Regions from separate parts of the Homo sapiens genome. Here region 1 is reported to be linked to region 2. The links are microRNA targets in miRTarBase. Many come from high-throughput screens and were not tested one by one. Region 2 holds a microRNA gene; the other region holds the end of a gene's coding sequence.

Region 1 (4,404 bases), not on the chromosome of region 2:
CTTTAAAATGCATGTTTTTTCTATAAGGTAGACAAATGGGACTACAGTAAGCATACTCAGAAAGTACTCAGAATTAATGTTCATTTCTTCTGAGAAAATACTAGAAAGCTCTGTAAACCATTAATTCAATATTCTGAGACATGTTTATTACTGCTTTTTATGTTGTTGAAGTCTTATTAGAAATAGCCCAGGTGGTTTGATCATGATACAGTGCTACTTGAAAATATATCAAAGGTAAAAATTCTCTCAACTATACCTTGAATGTCTTTTTCCCTGTAGACTTCTGTAGAGAAGTACAATTGTGTTTTAAATGTCTATTTTGAACTTGATGGGATACCATTAATCTATATGTGGTTTGATGTGTAACTTACCTGATATTTTTGTTTTAACTTTTTAGGTCCACTATCCGAGCTTTGATCAAGAATTTTTCAATTGCTTCTTTTTTCCCTGCTTTCATCACACTGCTGTTTTTTCAGCATAATCGAACAGCTTATGACATTGTAGCAGGAACCATTGTGGTAAAAAGAAATGGGGTCAGATGATGCCCCCCAAAACCCTGATTTCCACACACTAAGACTAAATTATGTATCAAGGCCATCAGTATCCCTGGGTTACACTAATTGATGATTTAGAAATTAAAGCAGTCACTCCAGTGTGATGCAGGTGACTACTCTGAAAGTATTGATTATACTTGAATGCCAAAGAACTTGTCCAGAAGAAAAACCTGTTAAATTCAAGTATTAAAATTTTTAGATCAAAAAGGCAAATGATTTTATAAACAATGGACAATATATACTTTCTTAAGATCTAAGGTACTTTCTTAAGATCTAAGAATTTGCTGAAAGCATTTTCAGCTTTGAAATCTCCAAATGAAACTTTAAAATTTATTTTGGTTTATCCCAAAATAATGGAAAATGTCCAGTTGTGTTTTGTAAACACCTATGTAACTCATCTTTTAGTTTACACTTCCTGGGGAAATTGTCTTTGGTGTTTAGAGGAGGGAATGAGAACACAAATTGGATAATCCACTGTCTCCCATCCCAGGAGGTGGTGAGTTGGCTACAAGAGAAAGGGACAAGTGAGGCAGGCCTAGCAGTTCCCTTACCTGAAGTTTTCAAATCCATACTGCAGTTCCCTCTCGTAATGATGTAACTTTACAACTATTCTTAATGCTTGAACATGTATTTAGGGGCAAGTTTCTCATGATGATGAAAAAGTATCAAGTCATATTGCTATGTTAATTGGTTTTTTTTTTTAAAAGGTAAGTTAGTGATTACTGTTAATGGTGGGGGAGTAAGTTTTCACTGTAAATTGAACTTATAATTTATGTGCAAGTGTTTTCAGTGCCCTGAATCAAACTATAAATGTGGGGAGAAATCACCTCCATCAAACAGTTGCATATTTACTGTAAAAGTATTCCCAGTATGTGTGCAGCATGAAGAAAGTATTAGTGCTTCTCAGTGTTCTCAGTGTAAATTCTATTTATATACAGCATATTCACATACTACTTTCCTTATATTTTATATAGTTCTATGACTGTTGAAACATCAAGGAGTTAAAAAAATCTTAATATTTCATGATTAACTCTAAGTACTATTAATTAATAGCTTGCGAAATATTAGCAATTTTCCCATTATGGACTATTCTCTCTAAAGCAAGAGAGACTAGCATTCCCAGACATCATTCTAGGGTCTTTAAGCTCATTTTGGGTCTGCTAAAGTTTGGGGGGAAATGTTACGCAAAGTGATACTGTGTATGTTGCCATTTTGCTTTATTCTTCTGTTGAAGCAAAATTGTGGGGTTTTATTATGTGTGTGTGCTTTTCCTAGATGTCCCAGTTAGCTGTGCTGAGATATACCTGTACTATTTATGGTTTAAGTTTTGATTCTTAGGTATTTTCTCCAGCTCTGACATTGTTTTCCAAAGACACACTAAACTGCATTGCACAGTTCAAAATTTGATTACTTAAGGGATCAATCTAGGTGGTGTTCTTGGTCTTAAATTTAACAGCAAACACAGCACATATCTATTATCACTATATTAATTTTCAAAGGTTTTTCTTTGACGTTTAAAACTGTGACAACAGATATTCACATTTGATTATAGAAACTTAATGTCTATTAATAATTTTAGTACAAAATTTCATAAACCGTGTTTTTCAAAATAAGTTTATGTCAAATCCAGCTTCCCAGAAACACTAATAATTAAGTACATCAATGTACTAAATAAATCATTCAGTTGCACCCATGGGGAAGATTGTGTTACTGCCCTTCACAGTGAAAAAAAGAAAAATCTTTCATTTTTAAAATTAGGAGATGTTACGTAACTTGGCACTTTAGTAGTGTATACACTAGCATTAGTTTATACACCACTTTTGCCGCTGGGGAATTCAAGTTGAAATGTCCCTCAATCATATAGGTCTGGAATACATCTTTCATTCATAATTTCTGCTCAGATAATTGAATAGTTTGCCATCGAGATTATTTTCATTTATACTATAAAACAAAAGCAAACTAGTCCAGTTTAATTTTTTGTACTTAGAATATTGCACATTTTCTATATATGAGTTATTCAGATTAGTATCTATGTAGGTTCAGTCAGATCCAACCATGGATTCGAGGTATTATACTGTATAACCCTACAAAATACATAGAAGTATTATTTGCCTTCATAATAGAACCCAAGAGTCTGTTTCAATTTATGAATTCAGTATTTGCACCGAGATTTTGATTCCCAAAGTTTGGAAAAAAATGACAAAACAACGAGGGAAGAAGGAACCAGACCTTAGTGCCACATATTTTTCTCTTGGGGTTGTAAGGTAGTCTCCTGCTTTCCAGAACACTTTATTATATTTCACTTATAGACCTGATTTTCTGTGTCAAAGTATAATTCTCATGCTGAAGCTGTAGCCTAAAAAGCCAAAAGAAAGTTGTCTTCATTGTACAAACATATTCATCACTTTAACAATAAGGGAACAAAATTTAGTATTCAAGCTGAGTGAGAATACTGTTTCAATGAGCATGTCCCTAAGATAAACCAGAATTGGCAGTTAATTTAGGCGTCTAGAAAATCTCAGTTCCCACCAGTAAAATTATCCTGAGTAGCTAATGCACCTTGAGAAAAATCTGGCATACTGAATAAATAACATTAACTTGGGAGCCAAGAGCTGGGTAAGCCTTACCTTTAGACTACTCTGTGACTACAGAAATAAAGCCAGCACTTTTGGAACTAATAAGCCTTCACTTGTCAGTATCATAAAGAGTATTGCCCAACTGAACTTTGCTCCCACTGGTTTAATAGTTACTTATTTCTGCCTAAGCACTCACCTTCCGATTTTACCCAAGTATATATATAGGATAGAAAAAAATGCATTATATTTGAGAGCTACTTCGCCCAAATTACAAAATGAGTGTTTTTAGATTCAAGTGACAGTAAAAGGATTTGTTCCCTTCAGTGACTTGAGTGTTTTAGTTATGCATAAGTATTTCTAGCAAAGGAAGGGTAGAAAGGAATTGAAAATTAATTTACACTAGTTGCTACTTGGGAATAAAGGGCTTTTTGAGGGGGGTATGGATATTAAATGTTTTCGTTATATACTTATCCCTATTAAAACAGGCAGTTGTTTCTTTGAATATGCCTAAATAACAGTATTCTTAAAATCTGACAGACAAGTAACATGTCAATTACTTGATATTCCTTGTCTCCAGTACCACAGGCCACTCTTGACATCCCATGTTTGCCTGGATAAAGTTCCTCATTTCAAACAGTATACATACTTCTTTGCAGTTCATTATAGTAAGGCTTAACCTGTAAACAGTATCTGATGGCCCACCTATAAATAAAATTCAGCATTCTATTTTTAATAATTTGTATGCCACCAATTTGTATTATTTGTCTCAATAAATACTTAGTCATCAATGCATCTGTATTTTGTCTATTTCTTTGAGACAGTTTGCTCTAGAATCTGCTTAGGGAGACCTTGCCTCCAAATACAGGTTTTCCAGTGGGTTTAGCAGTAAACTAGAATGCTTTCAGAAATAGAGATCTATGAAAAAAGAATCGCCCATCTTTAAGGATATATTCTTTTAGCAGGCACACTCAGAAGTTACCTGTACATGAATTAAGCTTACTATTAAACTAATCCAGTCCTTCAAGAGTTGTTAACCATCACAACCACCACACAAGTCTCATCTGGGCAATTTAAACCCAGTTCTGACCTTAAAAGCCTTTCCCATTCTAACAACTTTTATGAACAGGTCCAGAGAGAAGGCAGGAAGCAAAACAACGGGTTCCTCACTCAACAGGGGCAAAGATAATAAAGGATAAACTAGACTGTAGCTAAAAGATGGTCCAAGTCCTGTAGACAATGTGCTGCTGTTATGAGCCTAGCCACAAACTTGTTTT
Region 2 (4,404 bases):
ACCCTGTGGATTGCCTCCAACTCCCCAAAGTAACATTTACAAAGCTGGTATTGACCCCATCCCCACACTATGTTAGGTGCCCTCAACTGTGCTTCCAAAGTACTGTCCTCACAGTATACATTTTTGCACTTGCATGTCAAATTAACTGTCTGTTCTACTAAAATGTTAAGCACCATGAGGGCAAAGCCTAGCTCTCTCTTGCTCTCTGCTATCCCCCGCGTTCCCAGGTAGGCACTCAGTAAGTGCGTGATGAATGATGAATGGATTTAGACAGGCAGACAGTTAGAGGCAGGAAAGTAGTTCTCTGAATCCAACTTGCTGATATGACAAATTCTCTTAAACCCAACAGCTGTTACCAATAGAAAAAAGTAGTCTCTAAACTCTCTTTTGGTACCTCTAAGACTCTGTGGCCACAGTGTGAGGAAGCAGCTAGTGTCCCCTGTGGAACAGAGCTGAGTATCCTTTGTTTGCCTGATGTCTGGGGGCTAGGATACTAAAACTAGGACTGCCAGTATCTACCCCTGAGAAACATGGGTCTCTGCATGACATGGTTACTTGACAGCCATCTACCCAGCTTAGGGAGATACCTGTAACATTCTGGGTTTCTAAGTTAATATATGAACTGACTTTTTAGGTTGATATAGTCTGTGCTTCAGACACAAATAGTTTTAACCCTCAATATGATTATGCTAAGGCAGAAGGAAAAGGAGATTCCCTTTTATTTTCATCTAGGTCTCAATTTCCACAACAATTTCAACCCCAACTTATCATCATTATAAATAAATGTCAGCCTGGAAACTAGGTATTGGCTGTGGCAAAGCTAAAATACTGATACCTTTTGCAGCCAAGAAACAGAAGCCAACTGCTCTTTGCAAAGCTATTGAAGTAGGTTCAAGGTACTTGTGTTCCACTGAGATCTCCCTTATTATTTTACAAAAAGCACAAATCACTGAAATCCAGACCTAACTTGGAAAAGCTCTTGGGTAATGAGAGGGTATACAGGAATGAGAGCCTCAGAACCAGCTGTGTAGGAAGCTAGGCAGCAGGGAGACACCTGCATTTTCTAGCCGTGACCTGTGATTGTTTAGTCTCCAGTTATCCCCAACTACAGCTGATCTAGTATTGAATATGATCTTTTTGTCAGACAAAAAGCAAACCCTTTAAAAACCCCTTCCAGAACCCAAAATATCTCTTGCCAAAAGCTGTGAGAGCAGGACAAGAGCTCCTCCTATGCTGCTTACTACATCCTCTTAAACTGTTTATGAACTAGACAGTATCTAGGACACTGAGAATCAAGTGGAGGCACCTAGGTTTGTGTTGTTAGGACAAGGCACAACTGTTCTCAAATCACTGGAATGGAAGAAGGCATATCTAAGGCTCTTCTGCATTATGAAGACTCATTCTGCCAATGGAGGTCAAGCCAGCAAGGAAATGATTATGCTTGGTTTAAAGAAATGGGTGAAAAGATAATGACATTTCAATGGGCAGGAACTTTCAACTCAATAGCTTTAGTGGGGCAGAAGTCAGGCCTCAACTACCTCCTACCTTCAAATAATCTTTACTTGCTTCTCTGAAGAACAAGCGAAACTCTCAAGTATCTTTGAGAAGTCAGGGCCTTGGACTCACAATTCAGTATTTCTGACTAGTTCCTTTTCCCAGCAGTGGGAGGTTGCCCCAAGTGGCAGAACAATGCTTTAATGACTGGATCAATCCAGAATGGGGCACTTGCTCAACTTTAGCAGTGGCCTCCCCAACTACAGGGCTTGCTCTTGGAATCTTTCCAGAAGCTGAGACTGACGAACAGTGCCAGAGAAGAGCAGCATCACATCCTAGGGCCATCTCTACAGTGTTGTGCAACCAGCCCTGACTGGAAAAAAGTACATTCGCTTTAGTAGCAAGAGTGAACTGCTGCCTCCTTCAGAAAGGGTGGGTTTTGGAGAGTAGGCGTTTTAAAGGACTTTAGGAGGTGCCAGCCAATTTGAAGCCTGGGAAAACTTCATGTCTACAGAGGATTAAAAATGCTATCTTAGAATTTCAGGCCAGCTTTCAGCAATCTCAACCTTTCAAAGGCCAGGCAGCAGCTGTCCCGAATACGATGCCAATCAATGCCTCGAACACCTACAAAGAACTAAATCCAAGCAACAAGAAGCTGTTTCAGCTAGACACACTTTAAAATCAGATGGATCATAGCATTTTGAGTCTGGCTAAGATGGAATAAGGAGCTGTATGACACCCCGAGAGACCCAGAAGCACTGAGGAATTTGGAGGAACTGACAGGATGTGACCCTTCTCTCCAGCCAGTGTATTCAGCAGGCAGCCCACAGAAAACAAGGAGTTAGCACAATGAGAGTGAGCAAGGCCTGATTTCATCACAGAGCTCACAATCTTGTTTTAAAGGGGGCTTCTGATAGACAAAAGGAGAAAACAATTTCAACAAGGAAAGCAGGTGTATGATACTCTTTGTTCTGAAGGAAGATAAATGGCCTGAGTTCTTGTTGTGACTTCTGAGAGAGGAGGGAAGGACCCCCAAGAGGAGGAATTGAGCCTGTGGGCACAAACCTGCAATGTTTCAAAGCCGGTGCGTAGCTGGGGACGACCGTGGCAGCCTGCCGCTGTAAACATCCGACTGAAAGCTCCTCTGAACACCTTACAGCTTCCAGTCAAGGATGTTTACAGTAGCAAAGACTGCCCAGAAAGAACGGAGACGCAGTGAGGCACACCCTACTCTAGTAAGGAGGTGACAGAGGGCTTGCTAATCCAAAGGCCCTCATGCAGGGTCAGAATTACAAATGTTCATTAGGATGCCCACTTCTCCTAGACTTTCTCTGACTGGTTATTAATACAGGCTGGGATGGGGAGAATGGCTGTCACTGAATGACTGCTTCTAAGGATAATATACTATGAAATAATTCATTAAAAATAAAGTTTTATATAACAAAGCAAGCAGAACAAGGCACAGCTTTGCTCCTGTGAGATTCTGCCACAATTTCCCAAGTGGCACCTAGTGAATCATGCAATCTGCATGCTTAAAACAATGAGCTCTAAAGGACAGAGGTCTATTACAATCACAATTAAGAGCTATATGCACCCAAGGTGCTGAAAAAACAACTAGTGTGACCTTTGGAGAGGGGCAGGCAGAAGAGACGGGAAGGCAGACGTTCATATTCTTTCTTGTGATTGCTTGCAAAACAGCTCAAGTGGTGGTTCTCAAATCTGACTGCACATTAAAAGCATCCAGGGAGTTTTAAAAGGTACTGATGCCTGGGCTCCATCATGAGATTCTGATTCAGCTGATGTGGGTTAGAGCCTGGGCGCTGATATTTTTAAAACCCCAACAGGTGATTCTAGTGTGCAGTCAGGGTACTATATAAAGATATAATGAACCACAATATAGAGGAAGAGAAAACATAGTCCATTCACTCCAAATGCCACTGTGCACATAGAGAAGCTGTTTCTTAAAAATCTAAAATCTATAACTTTCTGGGAATATTCTCCTATCCCAGATGAAGAGCTCTGATAGACTTCCTAAGATAACTTGAAATGAGCTTAACTTTACCATTTGTAACTAAAGTCTTTCATTTTCATTTTGTCTATTTTCACTGAAATACCACTTCGGAGGCACTGAGTTAAAAGTATCCAGAAATGAGTAACAGAAGGAGATGTTAAGAATGAATCTGGTCTAGAAACGAGAAGCAAAAGGAATAGCAAATGACTTGTGCTGAGAGAGAAGGAGCGTATCTGACACCAGTATACAAAGCGCTCTTCAGTCAGCAGCAACTGCAATCCCTTCACAGCTCACCTGACGCTTTGGAGGTTTCAGTTCATCTCTTGGAACAATATCGATGAGAAAATCAAACTGATCAAATTTTGTAATTGCCATGGCGATATCATTTCTCTGTAACAAAGAAGAGCGGTGTGAAAAATTAGCCTGGGGAGAAACTAGTTCACTTGGCTTTATACCCTCCAAGTAAGGTAAGACGACTTTTAAGCCAAACTAAACACCTACGGGCAAGTCTACAGCTGAAATAAGCACAGCCAAACTCATATACTTTAAATGATCAGACCTGGTGGGCAACCATCAACAAAAAAGAAAGAGATACATGTAACTCACACTGTAAAATGGGGTATCTGAGCCTCCAACCACTGCTACTCCTGCTTGATCCTCTCCCCGCGATTTTCAAATTACAAACCTAGTAATCTCAATTAGCAGGTTTCTGGTCATTCTGTGGGTTAGCAAAGTTAGGTTTATAATCTTTTTAAGGCCCTAAATAATATTTTCCCTTTGGTTCACAAGTATTGAATTAGGTAAAATCCTAATTCAATAACTTTTTGCAACATTTTCAAGTCACTGGATCTATATACACTAAGTTCTCACAAGCTATGATTTTTATTTGGGAATTCTAA

What was found. Region 2 holds the annotated microRNA hsa-miR-30e-5p (UGUAAACAUCCUUGACUGGAAG, at 2,654-2,675, opposite strand). A microRNA usually pairs through its seed, bases 2 to 8, with sites in the 3' UTR of a target mRNA and lowers its output. Matches are read on the target gene's strand: a 7mer-m8 pairs with bases 2 to 8, a 7mer-A1 pairs with bases 2 to 7 and ends in A, and an 8mer does both.
Region 1: the mRNA of FAM8A1 is a reported target of hsa-miR-30e-5p. Seed matches in the 3' UTR shown: 7mer-A1 at 959-965.

The regions. Positions count from the first base shown.
Region 1 is chr6:17,607,798-17,612,201 of GRCh38, forward strand. It overlaps FAM8A1 (family with sequence similarity 8 member A1), which reads left to right. Exons shown (of 5, transcript NM_016255.3): 5 at 398-3,918. The coding sequence ends at 542. Among named protein-coding and RNA genes, the nearest start is that of FAM8A1, 9.7 kb to the left of the region's middle. RefSeq lists silencers at 2,827-3,027, 4,187-4,387.
Region 2 is chr1:40,752,642-40,757,045 of GRCh38, reverse strand. MIR30E (microRNA 30e) reads right to left here and starts at 2,691; the gene lies at 2,600-2,691. NFYC (nuclear transcription factor Y subunit gamma) reads right to left here. Exons shown (of 10, transcript NM_014223.5): 5 at 3,800-3,895.